Linked DNA regions of Homo sapiens: region 1 is linked to region 2. The links come from fine-mapping of genetic effects on gene expression. A gene starts in region 2. The other region holds a variant in brackets. All regions are shown on one strand. Distances are from middle to middle.

Region 1 (8,000 bases), 35 kb before region 2:
GGAAGGCCCAGGGCCCTGTAAGACAGGTGATTTGCTCTTTGTGCAGACTCTTGGAGCACACAGGAAGGAGGTTCAACTTTCCACTTACACGCATGCGCGCGCGCGCGCGCACACACACACACACACACACACACACACACACACACACTCTCTCTCTCTCTCTCTCTCTCTCTCTCTCTCTCTCTCTCTCTCTCTCTGTCTCTCGTACAGCTCTGGAGCGTCTGCCCAGCATCCTCATTCCACACCTTACAACACTGGCTGCCTTTTTCCTAACTATATCTCCTTCTGTTCTTTCTTAAAATGGCAGACTTATTGAAGAACCATTGTGAAAAGTCTGGAAGATTCTTTAAACGACTTAAATTTCTACCTTCTCCATTCTCCCTTCCTTCCCACTTTTAAGTTTTTTTCTTTAATTGTTGTTATGCGAGCAATAGGTGCTCTAGCCCTTCACTGATATATTGATCCCTGCTGCCTCCCTTCACAAAGGTTTGGCTGACAAATATGCTTGTGTTCACTGGTTGCCCCATGTACCTGTCAGTGCCCAGTGCAGGGCCCCCTCAGGTGGCTGTCTGGCTAACTAGCATGCCTTCAGTGTTGAGAGGCTCACCACTGCCTCAGGCAGCTCTGAGTATTGGAAAGGCTCTTTATGTTCTGTCGCCTGGAACCTTCTGTCCCCTTGTCCTGTTCTGTCCCTGAGGGCTCTGAGATGCTGGCCATGGAGGCAAGATCCCCTGCTCAGAAAGTGTTTCACTCTGACTTTGGACCGATAACTTTAACTGACGTAGTAAGTTCCTCATTAGCTCTACAGTGTGCCTGTCTCTGCTGAGCCACTTGAGCCAAGACAACACAGCCTCCCTGTGCTCTGAAGCTTGTAGTCTGGAGAAGTCGCAGGCATGGGAAGCATCGCATGAGCCTTAAATAGAGCAGCATCTGCCACCTCAGCTCCTTTGTGGAAAGAGGCAGTGGGGGAATGGATGCAGAGTTGAAACAGCAGCATTTCCTCTTGTTAGAATGCGGCACACTGACGCCATTACACAGGTGTTCAGGGAATGCCAAGTTGGGGTTATAGTCATTGCCATTCCTCCAGAGTTCAGAGAAGTGGGAGGTCAGTGCAGCAGAGCACTGGATGGCGAGTCAGGAAACCTCAGTTCTCGTTATACCTCTGCCACTGACTTACAGGGCAACTTTGGGCAAGTTCCTCCTCCCCATAGCTTGGTTTCCCGGCCTGATCTCTGAGGCTCCCTGTAGCTCTGCTGTCCTGTGATTCCCATAACTGTTTCCGGGAGGCTGCTGGAGGAGCTGAGCCGTGGACAGGGTGGGAAGGATGAGCAGAACTTGCAGAGGCAGAGAGGACACAGAGAGGACACATGCAGAGACACCAGACCTGGTGTGTGTGGGTTCAGGCAGGGTAAAGTGGGGAGCCCAACTGGATGCTGCTGTGGATGGGACCTGCGGCTGTAGGGCCTTAGATGCCCAGCAGGGGAGCTGGGCCCAGTGCCGTCTGCAGTAGGGTAACACTGCAGGTCCTTGGGAGTGGAATTGGTGTAACAAAGGCAATGTCTTTGGTAGGAGTATTCCAGATAGACTAGAGAGAAAGAGTCAACTATCTGGCCCACGGTGTGCTTTATTTCTTACATACTGTACTAGTTTGGGACTTTCTGAAATAGCTAAAGCTGTGGTTCCTTAAACTGTTTTGAGTCTTGGGTCCTCAGAAGCTGATGAATGCTTGGGCCATTCCCCAGAAGACACATGTGTAGGCCAGGCATGGTGGCTTACGCCTGTAATCTCAGTACTTTGGGAGGCCGAGGTGGGTGGATCACCTGAGGTCAGGAGTTCAAGACCAGCCTGGCCATTGTGGTGAAACCCCGTCTCAACTAAAAATACAAAAATTAGCTTGGTGTAGTGGTGCACACCTGTAATCCCAGCTCCTCAGGAGCCTGAGGCAGGAGAATCGCTTGAACCCAGGAGGCGGAGGTTGCAGGACGTATATGCAGATGTCCCTTGGTAAACATGGGAGAGTGGTTCCAGAACTCCCTGAGGATACCCAAAATCCATGGATGCTCAAGTCCCTGATGTAAAATGGCGTAGTAGTTCCCTATAACCTATACACATCCTCCTATATACTTTAAATCATCTCTAGATTACTTACGATACCTAATACAATGTAAATGCTAAATTTTGGTATACTGTATTGTTTAGGGAATAATGACAAGAAAAAAATTCTGTACATGTTCAATACAGTTTTTTGTTTGTTTGTTTTGGGACGGAATCTTGCTCTGTTGCCCAGGCTGGAGTGCTGTGGTGCGATCTCTGCTCACTGCAACCTCCGACTCCCTGGTTCAAATAGTTCTCCTGCCTCAGCCTCCCAAGTAGCTGGGATTACAGGCACGTGCCACCATGCCCAGCTAATTTTTGTATTTTTAGTAGAGACAGGGTTTCACCACTCAGGCCGTCTTGATCTCCTGACCTTGTGATCTGCCCGCTCAGCCTCCCAAAGTGGTGGGATTACAGGCGTGAGCCATCGCGCCCGGCCAGTTTGTTTTTTTAGAAGATTTTTGATCTGCAGTTGGTTGAATCCATGGATGCGGAACCCATGGATATGGAGGGCTGACTGTGCAGTGATGTCCCTTTTCTGGGCTTGTTACTGTCAGGGGTCAATTCATCCTCCTAAGAACCCTGTGAGGTTGAAGGGAGGGAAGGGTTGTGCGGACATTTGGTAGATGAGGATGCTGAGGTCCAGCAGACAAGTGACTTACTGTCAGGCACTCTGCAAGGCCCAGTGTGTGGGAGGATGGTGGCCCCGCTGCTGTGGAGCCACCAGTGGCCTGTGAGTCCTGGGTTCTGCCCTGTGAGTCAGCCCCAGACAGGGAACCTGCATAACTGGAGAATTTCCCGGGGCTGAGCTGGGGTCACAGGGGGAAACTGAGTCATGAGAAATGAGGAAGCAGAGGGAGAATGGACTGGCGGCGCCTACTCAGGCCTTGGTGAAGAGTGGGCCGTGTGCCCTTTCCCTCTCCAGGCGCTGGGCCCCCTGCCCCGTGAGGACGGCAACCTGATGCTGCACCTGCAGCGCCTGGAGACCACGCTGAGTGTGTGTGCCGAGGAGCCGGACCACGGCCAGCTCTTCACCCACCTGGGCCGCATGGCCCTGGAGTTCAACCGACTGGCATCCAAGGTGCACAAGAATGAGCAGCGCACCTCCATTCTGCAGGTGAGGCGCGTGGGGAGGGCAGCCCGAGACAGGCAGGCGTGCTTCCCCCCGAGCTCTTCCCACCTTCCTGCTCCTGGGAATCCACTGGTACCATGGGGACTTCTGAAGGCTGTGTTGTGGGCAGACTTCGGGCTTTTTGTTCAGGGTGATGAACAGGATAAGGAAGT[TG/G]TGGGGAGGGATGAGGAAGAGGAAGGAAATGGGGAAATACGGGATGGGCAATGCGAGTGTCATGGTTGGGGATACCCCCAGCAGCCCTGCCTTTATTTCTCATGTGCAGGGTTGGGGGATGGGAAGGGAGGGAACAAAGGTCAACTCCTTTCATAATGCCTCTTTCCCCCCAGGGTAGGCACCCTCATTATCACCACTTCACAGGTGGGGAAGCAGCCCTTTTTTTGCCCAAGGTCACCCAGCTGGTAAATGGTGAAGTAGGGATTGGAACCTCGATCTCTCGCATTCCAAAGCCCATACTCTTGACCACCATCCCAACCTGCCTCCCCTATTGAATTCCTTTTGAAAGCCTCCCTGTGCTGTGGGGAATGGACAGATTTCCTTGCTAGGCCAGGCCAGACCTTGGAGTTATATGGTCCTTGGTTCCAGTAGTGACCCTTTATTGCTGTATGACCTTGGACAAGTCACTTATCCTCTCTATCCCCCAATGTTCCTATCAGTAACATGAGCTAGAAGTGCCTCCATGGTTAGATTGCTGCATTAAATGAGGCCATGTACATGAAGCACCCAGTGCAGTCCAGAACCTAGTCCATGCTGGAAGAGAGGTCCCCATTCGGAGTTCATGACGGGCATCCACACTGGGCAGGGGGTCTTAGCCTTGTGGGCTTTAGCAGCGGGGAAGTGTTCAGTTATAATTGGTGACCATTCTAAAGATGGCAAAACGGAGGCTTCTGAGGGACTGCTCGTGATCTGAGTGCCCGCCACCTTAGTGACAGAGCCATGACTTGAAGCCTCCTTACTCCCTGCAGACTCTCCTCCCAGGCCATTCTCTGATCTGTGGTCTCATTCATGTCAGCAGGCACTCAAGTGCCCCGCTGATGGCAGAAGGGGGAGTCCCCCTTGCGTGACCTTGGTTGCCGAGGGCATGAAGGGCAATCAGGTTGGAGATGCAGTATGAGGAGAGGTGTGGGGGTAGAGGAGCACGGAGGATGCCCATCCCACCTGGAGGGGAGGGGTGTGTTGGGAGGTGAGGCTGAACGAGAGGCAGAGGCCTGGAGAGCCAGGCTGAGAGAAGGGAACCCCTTTAAGATGTCAGTGAGGCTTCAAGGTATCCAGGCTGAACCCTGGCAAGGTGAGCCTGGCACAGTGCCTAGGCTGTGGGCAGGGTAGGAAGGTGCCTGGGGTGAGAGCACTTTGCGCATCCACTTTTCAGCTTTGAGATGGGGATAGATCCTAGGCCCCTTAAAAGGGGTCCTGCCAACCTCTGTTATTTTTTATTTCAGTCCCCTCCTTGTTTATTTCCTTCTTAGCTCTTATCATAGTTTGTAATAATTTTATTTAATACATTTTTTCTTATACTCTTTTTTTTCTTATACTCTCTGCTAGAAGGTAAGCTTGAGGGGGGCAGGCACCATGTCTGTTGTATTCACTGTTGCGTCCCAGTTCGTGGCACTTCATACACACTTGGTGAATGAATGAAAGGACAAAATAATAAATGATCAAATGAACTCATAGCTCTCGTAGCACCTTGGATGGAAGGTGATGATCTTTGTGACCTCTGATGATTCTATCCATTGGCCGGTTTGCACCCAGGGCATTGGCCCAGAGACTCCAAGGAAACAGCTCTCTAGACTGCAAGGGTAGGACAGCAAGTGAGGCCTTGTCCTGGCCTTCCCTTAGGGACTAGGAGCAGGCCATTCTGTTCCCTGGAGGCCTCGCCCAGAGACATGGCATCTTGGGTATTTTTACTGCCTGGGTGGAGGTGTATTGATCCAGTTCCTCCTCATTCATTCACTGATGTGTTTCTTGGTTCACTAAACAAACATATTCAAGGTCAGGTATAGCATAAGGCTCTCTGCTAGGCATTGAATGGACTCATAACAATAATTTTTTGATTTCTTTTTTTTAAGGGGTGTTGGGGGACAGGGTCTTGCTCCGCCACCCAGGCTGGAGTGCAGTGGTGCGACCACAGCTCACTACAGCCTTGACCTCCTGGGCTCAGTTCTCCCACCTCAGTTCCCTGAATAGCTGAGACTACATGCATGCGCCCTTATGCCTGGCCAATTTTTTGGTATTTTTAGTAGAGACAGGGTTTTGCCATGTTGCCCAGACTGGTGTTGAACTCCTGGGCTCAAGTGATCCTCCTGCCTCAGCCTCCCAAAGTGCTGGGATTACTGGTGTGAGCCACCATGCCCAGCTGGTTCTCTGTTTGCTAAGCCTCATCTCCCTCATTGTCCAGCCACCTCCAGTTGAAGGCTGTGTCCTCCATTCAGCCTTCCCAAGAGTCTCCTTTGTGAGTCAGAAATGAAACAACTCTGAAATCTCCCTGGGTTACACAACAAAAGTTTTCCCTCCTATTCTGTGTGGCAGGGGTTTGTTTCTGCTCTACACAGTTCCTTAGAGTCCCAGGGAGACAGGGGCCCAACTTTCCGGTGCCCTTTAGAATACGAGGCATCCACATCAGCCCCTGCTACCAGGAAAAAGAGACTGGAGAATTGTGCGTAGGCCAGTCCAGGAGTGATGCTTGTCCCTTCTACACCTCTTTTGTTGGCCAGAACTAGTCACATGGTTGCATCCACCTGCAACAGGCCTGGGAGGTGGAAGGCAGCAGATGGCTGTTTAGTGAATGGCCCTGGTCCTGGCCCAGCTCAAAGGCTGTCCCCTCCTTTGGGCACCATCTCTCTCCCTTCTCTGATCTTTCATCACAGGGGAAAGAGACACCAGTGTGGGGTCTGCCAATTGGAGTTTTACTCCCCGCCAGTGATGAGTCTTAGCAGCTGTGCACCTGTTAGACTGTATCATTTTACCTGGTTTCCCTACCTTTAACATAGAGATGAGTTACTTAGCTTTGAGGAAGTTGTGAGGCACCAGTGAGGCAGTATATGGAGAAACACCGAGCAATGTACCTGGCACAGGTGAGGTGCTCAGTGAGGATCTGTGGAAAGATTGAACAACTCTGTGCTGACACTGTATGCTAGCATTGCTAGTCAGCACCTTCCCTTCCCCCCAGCCTGTGAGGTCCTGAGTCTGGCGACCCCTCTTCCATGCCCCCAGTTCACAGAGCTTCCAATATGAGTCCCCGCACATAAGCAAGTGACTGATGGTTCATGGACACTTCCACTCTCACTGTCTCATCTGTCCCTCTCAGCAGCCCTATAGAGGAGGCAGAGAAGAAACAGTTGTCCCTGGGCTAGGTGTGGTGGCTCATGCCTGTAATCCCAGCACTTTGGGAGACTGAGGCAGGTGGATCACTTGAGGTCAGGAGTTTGATACCAGCCTGGCCAACATGGTGAAACCCCGTCTGTACTGAAAATACAAAAATTAGCCAGGCATGGTGGCACACACCTGTAGTTCCAGCTACTCAGGAGGCTGAGGCAGGAGAATCTCTTGAACCTGGGAGGTGGAGGTTGCAGTGAGCTGAGATCATGCTACTGCAGTCCAGCCTGGGCAACAGAGTGAGACTCTGTCTTAAAAAAAAAAAAAAAAAAAAAAAAAAGAGAAACAGTTGTCTTTCTTTTGTAGAGGAGGAACCAAGTGTCACAGCCACATTGTGAGGGCGTGAGGGCATAGTGAGGTCCCGACTGAATGCCTTGTCTTCTGGTTTTCCCCTTGGCAACACTGGGCACCTCTCACACCTGCAAATTGGTGTGCCTTTCAGCCCCCCTAGGACTCGCCTGCTCATTTGTCCATTTGCTCATTTGGCTGTTCAGTCATGTTGTTCCTTCCACAAACTTTGAGCTGGGGGCTGGGGATCTGGCAGTGAACAAGAGGATGGTTAGGGGTCCCAGCCCTCCGGGAGCTCAGGAATTAATTAGGGGTAAGGGGGTAGATATTAAGAAAACAGCAGCACGAACAGTTCTTTAGCTTTATCTGCCACAGGTGCTGAGAAGCGTAAAAGCGGGGGGCTGTGAGCAAGGATAACGGAGTTAGCCTAATGTAGCTGGATCGGGGAGTCAGGGAGGACTTCTCTGAGGAGATGGGATTTAAACTAAGACTTCAAAGAAGGGTAGAAGTCAGCTGGGGGAGGCTGGTGGGGAATAGGGGTCCCGGCAGTGGGAGCAGGGATGAAGGAGAAGGGATGGAGCTGTCTGTCTTGGAGGAGCAGAAGGCCCCATGGCTGATACTTGGTCAGGCTTCTCCGTAGTTGGCTCCCAAGGGAGAGGACACGTGGGTGGCCAAGTGGCTTAGCTCCTTAGAGAGGGATGGGGTGAGGCCAGGCAAAGGGGATAAGGAGTTGGGCCCTGGGGTGGCTACAGGCCCCCCACCATCCTCTAGCTCAGCCTGCACCTGGGAGGGGCCCCTCCTTTCCCTCACCCTGTCTGTTCCCCTGCCCCACAGACCCTGTGTGAGCAGCTTCGGAAGGAGAACGAGGCTCTGAAGGCCAAGTTGGATAAGGGCCTGGAACAGCGGGATCAGGCTGCCGAGAGGCTGCGGTAAGTTCAGGCCCCTCAGAGAAGGGGTGAGGAGTGGGGGCTGCAGGAGGAGGGGCTGGTGTGCAGCACTGATTTCTGGGTTGAGGACCGTGGCTCTGAGGCCCTGTGCCCAGAGCCCTATTTGGAGGTTACGTCTCTTGATCCTTCTCCTTGGCTCTTTTGGTATTTTCTCTCTGGCCCTTTTGCCA
Region 2 (12,605 bases):
TGGCGAGGAGCCCTGTCTCATCCACACCACTCCCCCGGCTCACCCGCTGTGCCGCTGGAACTACTGAGGCCCGAGAAAGGGAGGGACTTGCGCAGGATCACCAGTGAGTTCACAGCAATGCTGGGACTCAGGTCCTATCCTCTTGACTCTAATCTGGATGGATTGGAGGTTTGGAGGACAAGAATAATACCCTTCCTCAAGTCAGCTGTCAGTCACCTGCCCATTGCCAAGGCCCTCCACCTGGGCCAGCTAGAGCACTCATTCAGAACCCTCAGGATTGAGTTTTCTGGAGCAAGAACTATCCATCCCTGGATACAAGGCAGAGAACTTCTTTGGGGTGAGGTTACAACCCTCCCATAATCTTTGGCAAATCAGGAACACAGATGAGGCCCTGGCCCAGCTCCCCAGTTTCCTCAGTGTCCCCTGGTCTCTTTTGCAGCAGCACCCAGCCCATCTCTTGCCCAAACGCACTCTGCTCTGTTCCAAGGCTAGAGAGAAGCATCCCAGAAAAAGCACTCACAGCCACTGGGCCACGTGACCGCCGTCCTTTCACTTCCGGGAATTCGCCTGTGATTGCCAGGCAGAGCATGGAGGGTCAAATTGCCCTTGCCTCCCTGACCCCCTGCCAGTAGACTGCTCAGCCCCAAAGCGTTTTCCCCTGGGTGCTGTCGCTTGCCTTTGGTTGCCTGTTCCCCTAGCCTCTGTATTCTACCCCAGCTAGGGAGAAAGGAGTAAGCATATCAGGAGATCATGAAACCTGCGCCAAATGCCCCATTCCACCGCTAATAGCTTTGTGACCCTGTTTAAGTTGTATCTTCGCTCTGAGTCTTGGTTTCCCATGTGTAGATTGAGAAGAGGGGAAGGCTAAACTAGATCATCTTCAAAGTTTATTTTAGAATGGGCATTAGAAGTGTAGCCTGCTCCTTCATCCCGCTACACCACGCATACACTCTGGGGCCTCGAGGCAATTGCCTGCTTTCCAGAGAGCTGCCAAGAGAAGCACCAAAGCAGATGGGGCTGAGGGAAAATAAGATATTCTCAGCAAGATGGAGCTTCAGTTACCATCTCATGCTCCAGCCAAAGGGAGCTCTAAGCACAAACCTAATCTCTATCCCTCTGCCTTTAGGGTTGTTGAGGTGCCCAGAGATGAAGAAGGATAACTAGGAATCTCCTAGAACATGTCCAAAGGCAATCAGACCTCAGGCTTATATAATCATCTTCACAAAACCACGGAACACAGTGGAGCTGAGAAAAGGGGCTTGGACTCTCGTGATTGCCATCACCCTTTCCCCCATGCACCAGAAAAGCTCCTGTGATTGAAATATGCCATACAGCCCCAAATAAAGCAGGGAGGAAGGGTGGGCTCTTACCAATGTACTGGCCCGTCAGGCCTCAGTAGCTGGCCACGTTGACAAAGAGGACGTATTTGCCAGCATACTGCTTGAAGGGGATGTACTCCTCCCCATCAATGGTGAGGGCTCCGTACTCGTAAATGGTGCCACTTATGCCACCATGGCAGTCCATCTGGAACACAGGCCATAAAAGGAGCAGTTAGAGCTGGAAAGGAACTTGGACATCTCCGTTTTCAAAAGAATGAAAGATCCCAACAGAGAGAGTGACTTTCTCAAAGTAATCACCGAGAATTGGAACTGGACTAGCACTGACGTCTCCTAATTCCTTGTTTAAGATAATGATTATGAAAGCACTTAATAAGTGCTTTTCGGGTACTTAATATTAAGTGCTTAAAAAGCACTTATTAATATTAAGCACCTAATAAGCACTTATTAATATTAAGCACTTAATAAGTGAGTGCTATGGAACCCTGGAGAATGACTTATTTTGCTAATTACTTCCACATCACATGTCAATTTCAGAACATTTACTGGGCTCTCAGGGAGACTGCCCTAAAGCTGATGACTGGGTTCCTAGACGGGCTGATGGAGACTGGTTGGGTGGCTGTTGGAATAATCCAGGCAATTGAGGATGAGAACCTGAACTAGGCCAGTGTGAAGGAAAAACTGAACAGAAAGGAGGAAGAGGCCGTATGGACATGGTGATTCAGAGGCTCCCAATCTGCAGGACAGGAAAGATGAAGCTGTTGTTACCAAATAGGGAAGCAGGACTGAGAGCCAGGCATGGGGGAAAGGGCTGTGGTGAGGTAGGGAAAAGCAACAGTACCTGCATGTGTTAATGTTCCGGGTCTGAGCAGGCTGGTGATGACCCTTATGCCTTCCTCCCTCCCCAGCTGCTGCTCACAGTCAGCCTCCAGGACAAGGAGGGACAGAGTGCAGTGGACTGTGGGCTGGGAGACCTGGGCTCCATGTCCCTTTGCCATTAACTCCCTGTGTGGTCTTGGACTGGCCCTTTCTTTTCTTCGGACCTGAGTTTCCTCATTTATAAAATGAGAACCTTGAACTGAACCAACTCTCCAACCAGGTCAACCATGATGGCTTGATAGGATCATGATCAGTGGGAGAGAGGGGATTGGGGTCACTGCTGGCTAGTAGGATGTGGCCTATGAGCCTACTCTGCCCGTGACACAGACAACAAAATTCTGAGACTATTCTTGAAAGGATGTCATTGCATCATTGACACAATTTGGCAGGTGGGCTGGTCGTGATGGGAAAGGAGAAACCTTGAAACCATTGTATAAGGTGGTCTTTAAGGTCCTTTGTGGCCCTGATATCCTTTGAGAGGTGGGCAGACAATAAACAAATGGAATGCAAAGTAGCATTATAGACCAGGAGAGGGCAGAGACAGGTGGCTGGAGTTAGAGAAGCAAATTCACTCCCTCTCTTCCCCTCAATTCTGGAGAACTTGCTGTTGAGGCAAGGTACCTGGGCCTGACCAGGTGAAGGGAGTGATATATGCTGGCAGGGCGTGGCCCCAGTAGAGTGCAGAAGAGCTGCCTCTGTCATGAAGCAGGTCTGCTGAGCTGGGCGAGGCTGCGCTTCCTCCGCCAGGCCATTCCCTGGCAGCTGCAAGCTCTCTTCTTGGCTCTGGTGCAAACTTCCTGCTTTACATGAGTCTAATATTCCACATCCGGTGACTTTTGGTGGGTGCTGGAGGCAGGCCCAAGACCTAAGATCAACATTCCTACTGCTCCTGGACCTCCTCGTTCCCAGCCAGGGCCAGTTCCGCCTTAAAATGCAGACAAACTGGGGCACAACAAATACACCCTAGACCGCCACAAAGATCTAGTGGCCAGAAAGCCAGGCATGTCTATAGCCTCTCCACTTTTTTAACTCTGCCATGATCCAAAAATGAACTCTGAGACATGGAGGAAAAAAAGATTACAGGTTGTCCTAATAATGGGAACTTGTAAACAGAAGGACCAGCTTCTGGGCACAGTTTCAGCTTGGGGGTGTGGCAAGGAGAACCCTATTTCATTAGGTTCTATTTTTTGCTGGCTGTGTGGCCCTGAGCAAGTCACTTACACTGTCTGGGCATATGTCCAGGGAGATAAGCATGCTGCTGCCCAAAATGGTTGTGGGAATCTGCTGGCAGAGCAAAACAGGCCTGGAGTCTCTTGGAACGAAATCTCATGTCAAGGGATAGTGGGGGTCAGAAGGTGGCCCATGGGTGGAGAGCCACGGCTGTGCTCACCACTGATCACTGCAACTCAGTCCTCTATGAGCCCCCTTCCCTTCTCTGGGCACGTGGAATCCCAGAGCACCGCATCTGAAACAGTGGCCAGAGGAGATAAGGGGAGAGGCCATGAGGGTGCCTGAATCCTCCCACAGCCGGGCAAGAGAAGAGGGTTCCAATGGCTTGAGAGTTGGATGATGGGACTCAGCCAGGACTCTGGCTGGCTGGGGCTGCTGGTCTTGTGTCTTTCTCCTCTCCCGTCTTATTACTCCTATCAATATGATGCTGTGAGAAGTGGTCTGGGAGTCAGGAGACCTGAGTGCTGGGCTTTGCTGTGTCTCTGATGCCATGTGACCCCCTTTGCTGGGGCTCCAGCTCCTCCATTGTAAGATGGAGTCAGGTTCAGGGCTGTCTTAAGGGCCCTTTAACTCTGTCAGCCTGTGGTTCCATGATTCTCTCTGCCAGGTTTAGTCACCTAGAAACCAGCAGTTACTAGGATCCCGTGCACGTCAGCAGTTGTCACTCTTTCCGGCTTCTGCAGTCCTTTTGTAGAGACAAGGAGCGTGGGCAGCCTGAAGTTGGACTGGGGAGGTGACGCAGCAAGAAGAGGAGGACCTGGTCTCTTCCCTAGCATCTCCCTTTCAATTGGTAGGAGGAAAACACCTCTCTGGGGCTGAGTCACCTTTCGTCCATTCCATTCTCCACATGCCCCATAACCCTATCTCTTTACCCTGGGGTTGGGGGTAAGGTGAGTGGTTGGGTCCTAACCCAGAGCTAAGACATCTGAACTCTAAGAACTTGGGAGCAGAGATGGGCATGCCCAGGCTTTCATTAGCCAGCAAGTCCTGACTGGTTGTATGTGATATGATCACACCTCACCCTAAAACTTTTCTAGACCATCCCCATCCTATTCTCTCTGAGTCCATTTATCCTTCCCCAGAGTGCTGCAGAGAAGACACAGCTATGATGAGTTATTCATGGAGTCCACGTTCTCCCCACTAGCCTTCTTGAGGCAGGGCCCAATTGTATCTTCTTTGACCTTTCCAAAACTGAAGGTTGGGACTGACTCCACGGTGCTGGCCTGTCTATGGCCCACCCCAAACCTCAATGTTGAAAATCGATCCCATTCCTGACCTGGAAAATGCCTTCTGAGTTGGGGATTATGAACAGGGATGGATAAAAAGGAGGGGACTTGGACGAAGTGGCTTCACATCCATTTAGACTGACTCCAAGGAGAGGCTGATTAATCGGATTTAGGCTGAGGACCGAAAAGGGGTGAGTAACATGGAAGGAACCCTGTGCTTCCAATGGGCTTCCTGAGAAGTGGACAGAATTTTGGAAACGGAATCCTAGACTCATAAGAACTTAATTAAAGTGAAGACCCAGAGGATTTTAGAAACAAAAGCTCAGAGCTTGCAAAAATGTGAGTTATGCATGTTGGGAAGTTGGAGACAGAAATCGCTCGCTTTGAGTCTATCCCTACACCTGGCTTCTGCCTCCTTCCCCACCCACTCCCACTCCCTGGGTAGAGGAGAGGTCTACAGAGCCCACCCCAGTACATACTGTCAAAGGAGATAAGCATGCTGGGTCATCCCACTCCTGGCCTCAGTATCCCCACTCCAGGTGTGGGCCACACACCTGCTGGAAATAGACTGAGGCTCTAGAGAATTCTACCTCTTCTTCTGAATTAGCAGTCCCCAGCTTTCTCCAACTACCAGGTTTCCTCAGGCTAATGAGGACAGTGGGTCCTGGGTAGTGAGGCTGCCCCAGGGGAGGAAATTTCAGAGAACAGCTTGTGGATTTTTCAGCTTCTCCAAGCATCCCCTCTGAGGCCCTCAGCTTCATTGTGCCCCATGCACTCCCACCCCCAAACTCTCCCCTGCAGATGGAGAAACGGGGGTCCAGGAGCAGGTAAGGACTCAGGGTCCTGAGTGTTCTGCACTGTCACTCCAGAGCTCTTTCTAGCACAGATCTCTGCCTCTTCTACCAATGCCCTGAATCCAAGTGGCCATTTCTACCTGCCTGTATCATTCTTGGGGTAGAAGAGCCCCCCACAGCAGTTCTTCAGGACCAGGACCACCCAGCTGCCTCTCTCCTTTCTCCTTGTCTCTCTCCCTGGGAACTTGCACAGCCCACCCAGACGCTGGGCATTTTTTTCTGTGACGCCCTCCCTCTTAGGCCCTACTGAAGGGGAGCAGCTCAGGCACGGAGGTGACATAGATGTAGCAAGGCGACCCTCGAGGTGGCAGTGGGGAGAAAGTGCGAGCTCGGGGAGAGAGACCTTCCTCCCTTAGTCATTCTGCCCGCCTGAAGCACCAGGTCTCGGCTCTCCAACAGATGGAACTACGAGACGACGACGGTCGGGGGCGGGGTCCCGGCGGCGGAGGGGGCGGCAAAAGGGGTTCAGGAGGTCTCTCGCACCTGGGGATTGCCCATCTGGCGGGGAGCCTGGGAAAAGGGGTGCATTGCACTGAGCGCTGGACACCGAGGGGCTAGGTTTTTTCTCCCGGCCCCCGGCCCGGAGGCTCACTCACCTTCGACTTCTCTTGTCCCCGGCTCTGCGAGACGAAGCCGGCCAGGAGCAGGGAAAGCAGGCAGGACGCCTGCAGCAGCCGGGCCATGGCGGGGTGGGGGCACACTCAGGGTCGCCTGAGCCGCTGCCTGATCCCTGGCCACCGTCCGTCTGAGGTGTCCGGCGCTCCCAGCCACCTTTCAAGCCCTCGGGTGTGACCAATCCGCGGCCAAGCCGAGACCCTTGCAGCCAATCGCTAGGCGGCTGGGATTTCAGGGGCGGGCGCGACTTGCCCTCAGCTCCCCACCTCCCCGTCCCGGGGCGACAGTGACATAAGCAAATCTGGGCAGAGAGGTGGAAGTCAGGTCCCTGTGGACGTGGGAGGCGGTCCCTTCCTCTTTTGGCTCCAAAGTGCGAAAGGAGGCAGACACAGCGGTCTCCATTACAGCCAGGGCAAGGGGGCTAATAGCTCCCTAGAACTGATGGAAGTCTCCATTCTGGGAAGCATTTCTTATTCCTATCGAGGTTTTAAAAACACCTGGCGATGGTCCTCTGGAAATTGAGGGTTTAAAATTTCAGCAAGAGCTGAAGTTAAACTTCCAGAAACATTTACTATATATAGGTTTAGTGCTTAAGAAACAAAGAGTGGGTGTCCTGGGATTTTGAAAACCCCATTCTGGGTAGGGCATTAGGACTGTAGGGACAGAGAAGGTGGGGTGCCTTTCCTCCCCATCATAAGGATCACAGCTGACATGCCTGTAGAAAAAGGTTAGCAAGAGAAAAGCATAACGATTTATTTAATTAAAGTTTTCTGTGACATGAGAGTCTTCAGAAATGAAGACCCAAAGACTCAAGGAAAACTCTATTTTTAGGCTTAGATTCTATGAAGACCATGGAAATGCGCAGAAATGTGAGTGGGGAAAAAGGGAATGGTCTAATAGTAATAAACTGAGTGGGAAACCCAGCAAGGCTTGTCTGTTCGTATTCTTCTTGGCCTATCTGTGGCCAAACCACCTGGCTTAGAAGCAGAAAATAAATTTGCTCCCTGTGTAGTCTTTAACATGTTGCAGTTACTCTCTGGGCCTCAGTTTCCTCAGCTATGTAATGATGGGATTGATTAGTGATCTCCAGTGCCCTTCTGGCTCTGGCTAGATGACTTGTTTCTAAAGTAAGTGACAGACGGAGACCAGGAGTCCTTTGAGAATAGGGCCCATAATCACCACCTGGCACAGGGCCTAGCACACAAGAGATGTAAAGTATTTGCTGACTTAATCATTCATTACATTAAAAAAACAAAATCTCCATGGAACACTTAGGATCAGACCAGGCAGTTCTAGGGCTGGGCTGTCTAGGTATGATCCCGTTCACAGATGGGGAATGTGATGGAATCAGTCTCAAATCTCTCTGACCACCAGAGTCAACTGGGAAGCCTTTAATACAGATTCCTGGACCCCACTTTGGAATCACTGCATTAGAATCTCTAGGGGCAGAAGCTGAAAATCTGTCTTCAGACATGTTCTAAGGTTATTGTGAGGCAGTTGGCCTGGCTGTAGCCTTGGTAGTGTGAGTCCTAGGATTAAGTGCCTTCTGGAACTTTCTTCTGACCAAGAAATGCCTTGAGAAACCATACCTTTACTATGATTAAAGGTATTAACATCCCCCTGGGAATTTGGAAGATGTCTCTCAAGTTTTGCATTCTCTACGAAGTCTTCCCACCTCAAACCACAGCCTGTTGAAGTGGAAGGAACCACAGAGGCCAGGAAGTCTTTAGCTGAGTTAAAGCCTGGGAGCATATGAACAATGGCTGACACACAGTAAGTGCTCAATACGTTTTATTCAACCACCTCATTTCCCTGAAGCCTAGAGATGAGGAGCAATTTATCCAAGTTCCCATAACCAACTGATGGCAGGGAGGGAACCAGAATCCAGGTCTCTAGACTCAGTCTCAGGCCCTCTCCATGTTGTTCTGTTGTCTTTTAAGGTTCGTATTTACCCTAAAATATAAACATCTGTGTGCACATCAGTTTGTCAGAAATCCATTGTTCATTAGTATCAGTAGGCATCTAGTGACCCTCAAAATAGGCACCTAGCAACATGTTAACACCATGAGAGATGCTAAAGAGTTGTCTAAAAGCCAAAGTCCCTGCTCTCAAAGGTGTTTCCAGCAGATACCAGCAGGGTGAGGGAAGGGAAGGCACCTAGGGTCACACAAGTGCAGGCTGGCACCTGGCAGCGGGCATCTCTCTACATTTTGCACCCTCTATGTCTCACTTGTCTCACCTTAATCCCAGCCCTGGTGGTCTATTTCTTTAGGGGAGACAAGAAGGAGCCAGAGACCTGAGATGCTACCCCTGGATTGCTACGGAAAGTAATAAAATTACTTTCCTTCTCTGATCTCAGTTGTCCACCTATTTAACAAGGATCTTTGACAGTCTCTCAGTGGTGGTGTCTGTGGCTTTTCATTCCTAAGAGTATAAGGAAAGCCTGAGCCATACAAAACAGGAGTACAAAACTGATGACATGGACAGTGGGGTGGGGAGGCTTGGGGAGCCTGCCCTGGCATTAAGAAGGGCTTTCATGCTGCAGTGAGCTTTCAAAGGAGGTCTAACCATTGGCACAAAGAGCATGACAGTGAAAACAATGAGAATGAAAACAATACTTCCCAATCTTTTCATCAGCAGCCTTTTAAATACATTTGGTTGACTTGTTTTCAAGGACCCTATGTTTTGAAATATATCGTTCTCCACCAGGCTGCTTCTGATTGCCCTCAGGTTAAAGTCTAAATTCCTTAGCACTTCAGAAAGTGCCCTCAAAATCCATCTGCTTCTTCCTCTTTTGCCACACTCTCCATATTCTCTCTGCCTCCGCTACACTGGACATTTTTCCGTTCTTGCAGTCTGCCATTCTCCCTCACTTCCAGGTTTCATCTCTGCTGTTCCCTGTGCTTGGAACAGAGGTTGTCTCCCTTTAACTGGTACTATCCTACTCATTTTTCATATCTCCACTAATGTCACGTCTTAAGACAGGGGTTTCGTGATGGTTCCCTTGTTTTCCTGTAGTTCCTAGAGTATTTGACACTTTGTACATCGACCCTTTGTTGTACTTTATCATCATTTCTTGTTTGTCTATTTTCTGCACTAAATTATAAGATCCAAAAAGGCACCAGCACCAGCACAGAGCTTAATACATAGTAGTTGCTTGATACATATCTATCAAATAAATTAATGTCAAGGAAAACAATATTTGGCATATAGAATAAGGAGAGCTTCAAGTTAGCAAGTTGTAACCATGTAGAGCCCGCAAGACTGGTCTGATTTCATCTTCTAGGAAGATTCAAGACGTGCGGGTTATGATGAGTAGGCTTGTCAGAGGAGAGTAGATGATTTGCATTGGCCAAAATGGGAAGGGAGGGATGGAAGGAGAAGCTGTAGAAGAATCATAAGCTAGTTTTGCTTCCAGTCTGAGAACACGTCTTCCGCATTCCAGACAAGTGAGCACTCGGAACCTCTTCATCCTATTTTTTAGAGACCTCTATAGGGAGCTCACTACTTACCTACTTGGTAGGTGAACAGAGACCGAAGATGACTTAAAAAGAGGTTTTACAAAAAGTGCTGATGCACTGTGTCTTCAAGGAAGATAGAACACAAATTAATAAACTCAAAGGATTGTAAAAAGTTAAAACAACGAAAGCCAGCCTTATTATTGGTTAGTAAACATTTCAGGTTCTGAACTCAAAGATGGGATCAGCCACTCTAACTGATGAGCCTAGGTGGAAGCAGAAGTGAGGCCCAGCCTGCGTCACTTCAGTGCCAACTTCAAACAGTAGCCCTTGTTTTGCAATCGAGAGAAATTGCAGAACCGAGCTGGGGCCCTGGAGCTGCCAATTTCCTAAATAATTGGCAAATTTGATCTCAGGGCCAGCCAGAAGACAGGGAGTTCATCAAGAGGAGAGGTGGGTGGCTGTAGTTTTTGCTTGTGAAACTAGTGCCTTCCAAACTCTGGGCTGCAGTTTTCTCATTTATGGAACGAGGTGTTAGACAAGTTGATCTCCATGGGCCAAGCTTTAGCATAAAGAGAGTAGCAGCCAGCATTCACTCAATATCCTATCTATACCAGGTGCTGCCTTAGATTAATTAATCTCTGCAACCTCTTGAGGTAGCCAACATTATTATCCCCATTTTGTAAATGAAGAAACTAATACATAGAGAGGTTAAGCAACTTTGCTTAAGGTTATGCAGTTGGTAAGTCACAGAACCGGGATTCTGACCCACACATACTATTCTGCTGTGAGCAGATCTCTGTAAACCTACCCCACCCCCGCGCCAGCCAGTCAGAGGAGGCTGAGAAGCTGAAGAAAGAAGCTGACATACCCAGTTTCTCAGAAAGAAACATTTATTAGGGACTTAGAAACAGAAGCCACAGAAGTCTTAGGTGGCTGTGAAGTGAGATAGTGGATCCCCAAGCTATTACCCCTCCTCAGCCCAGGGCTTATATAGCATAGGGAAGGGGCGATTTCCCTATTGAAGGGATGTGTAGGCCAACTGAAGTGTGAGAATATTAAGTTTGTTTTCACCTAAGGGGAATATTTATGTTAAGGACATGCTCTTACACAAGGAAGAGTAGATAAACTGAAAACCTTAGCGGCTTTCCTGGAACTGGAGTTAATCAGAAATCAACATGGTTGAATCAGCATCCTAGACAGAGTGTCTTTAGCCTCCGCATATACTGTCTCCAGAGCCCTTGCCATTAACCTCTAAGCCAATATAGCAGGCAGGCCATGGGCGTGTGTGGCTGTTGCACGCTTGGAGTAGGGCTAGTACAAACTGATCTGTGCTGTGAGTATAAAACACACAGTGTTTTCTGAAGACTTAGTGTGATAAAAGAATATAAAATATCTTAATTTAATAAAATTGCATATGGAAATATTTTAAATATATTTTTAATATAGTGGGTTAGCTGAGCATAATGGCTCACGCCTGTAATCCCAGCGCTTTGGGAGGCTGAGGTAAGAGGATGGCTTGAGCCCAGGAGTTTGAGACCAGCCTGGGCAACATAGTGAGACCACATCTCTACAAAAATTTTCAAAATTAGCTGGGCAAATCACTGGAGCCCAGGAGATTGAGGCTGCAGTGAGTGGTGATTGTACCACTGCACTCCAGCCTGGGTGACAGAGTGAGACTCTGTCTCGAAAATAAAAATAAAAGAATAATAATATATTGGGTTGAAGAAAACATGTGCTTAAAATTAGTTTTGCCTGTTTCTTTTTGGTTTTTAAAATATAGCCACTAGAAAATGTAAAATTACATGTGACTCACATTATATCTCTGTTGGATAGCACTGGTTTCAGCTGTATACTCTTAAGGGACTGGCACAAGATTATGATTGACTCTGTGAAATCTAGGCTTAACTCCTGTTGGGGGTCCCCAGATCACCTCTAGGTTCAGTGATTTGCTAGGAGGACTCACAGAACTCAGCATATAAGTACACTGACACTATGATTTATTACAGCACAAGGTTACAAAATCAGCAAAGGGAAAAGGTGCATGGGACAAAGTCTGGAAGAAAACAGCCACGAGATTCCCAGAATCATCCCCCAGCTGAATTAAGCACACAGGATGTGCTTCATTCCTTTGTCAATGAACTGTAACAGCATGTGTAAAATGTTGTTTACCAGGGAAGTTCACTGGAGACTCAATGCCAGGGTTTTTGTTAGGGGCTGGTCACATAGGCATCCTTGGCTAAGCACATACCAGAATTCTAAACTCCCAGAAGAAAATTAGGCAGTCAACAGAAACTGCATTGTTTGTCCAGTTTAGGCATAATGAGCTACTCTTATTAGTTTGGGGAATGGTGGAAATCCTTCTGAAATAGAAGTTCCCAAGAGCTGACCACAGGCCAAGTGTAGCGGTCTAAGGATCATGGTCTCGGGCCTGTACTACTAACAATTTGCTACACATTTCTCAATTAAGCCTCAACAGGACCTGGCCTGGCAAATACTAGGTTTGTTGGGCTTACCTGAAATGGAGTTGTCTTAATCCGTTTGGGCTGCTATAATAAAATTCTATAAACTGGGTGGCATGTAAATAACAGATTTATTTCTTACAGTTCTCAGGCTGGGAAGTCCAAGATCAAGGATTTGGGATCAGGTGAGGACCTGCTTCCTCATACATGGCTGTCTTCTCACTGTACCCTCACATGGTAGATGGGGTGAGGGGCCTTTCTTGGGCCTTTTTTATAAGGGCATTTATTCCATTCATGAGTGCTCCATCCACCTTTATGACCTAATCACCTCCCAAGTTCCCACCTCCTAATAGCATCACTTGGGGGTTAAGATGTCAATATAGCCAGGCGCAGTGTGGCTCACGCCTGTATTCCCAGCACTTTAGTAGGCCGAGGCAGGCGGATCATGAGGTCAGGAGTTCCAGACCAGCCTGACCAACATGGTGAAACCCCATCTCTACTAAAAATACAAAAATTAGCCAGGCATGGTGGTGTGCGCCTGTAG

What was found.
Region 1: its variant is fine-mapped to the expression of GPX3 in whole blood (TOPMed, PIP above 0.99).

The regions. Positions count from the first base shown.
Region 1 is chr5:151,051,977-151,059,976 of GRCh38, reverse strand. TNIP1 (TNFAIP3 interacting protein 1) reads left to right here. Exons shown (of 18, transcript NM_006058.5): 6 at 3,020-3,211; 7 at 7,718-7,812. Among named protein-coding and RNA genes, the nearest start is that of TNIP1, 25 kb to the left of the region's middle. RefSeq lists an enhancer at 3,146-3,672. The variant TG/G (reference allele first, on the strand shown) is at 3,379.
Region 2 is chr5:151,014,259-151,026,863 of GRCh38, reverse strand. It overlaps GPX3 (glutathione peroxidase 3), which reads right to left and starts at 6,273. Exons shown (of 5, transcript NM_002084.5): 1 at 6,123-6,273; 2 at 1,371-1,524. The coding sequence starts at 6,209. RefSeq lists an enhancer at 3,629-4,828.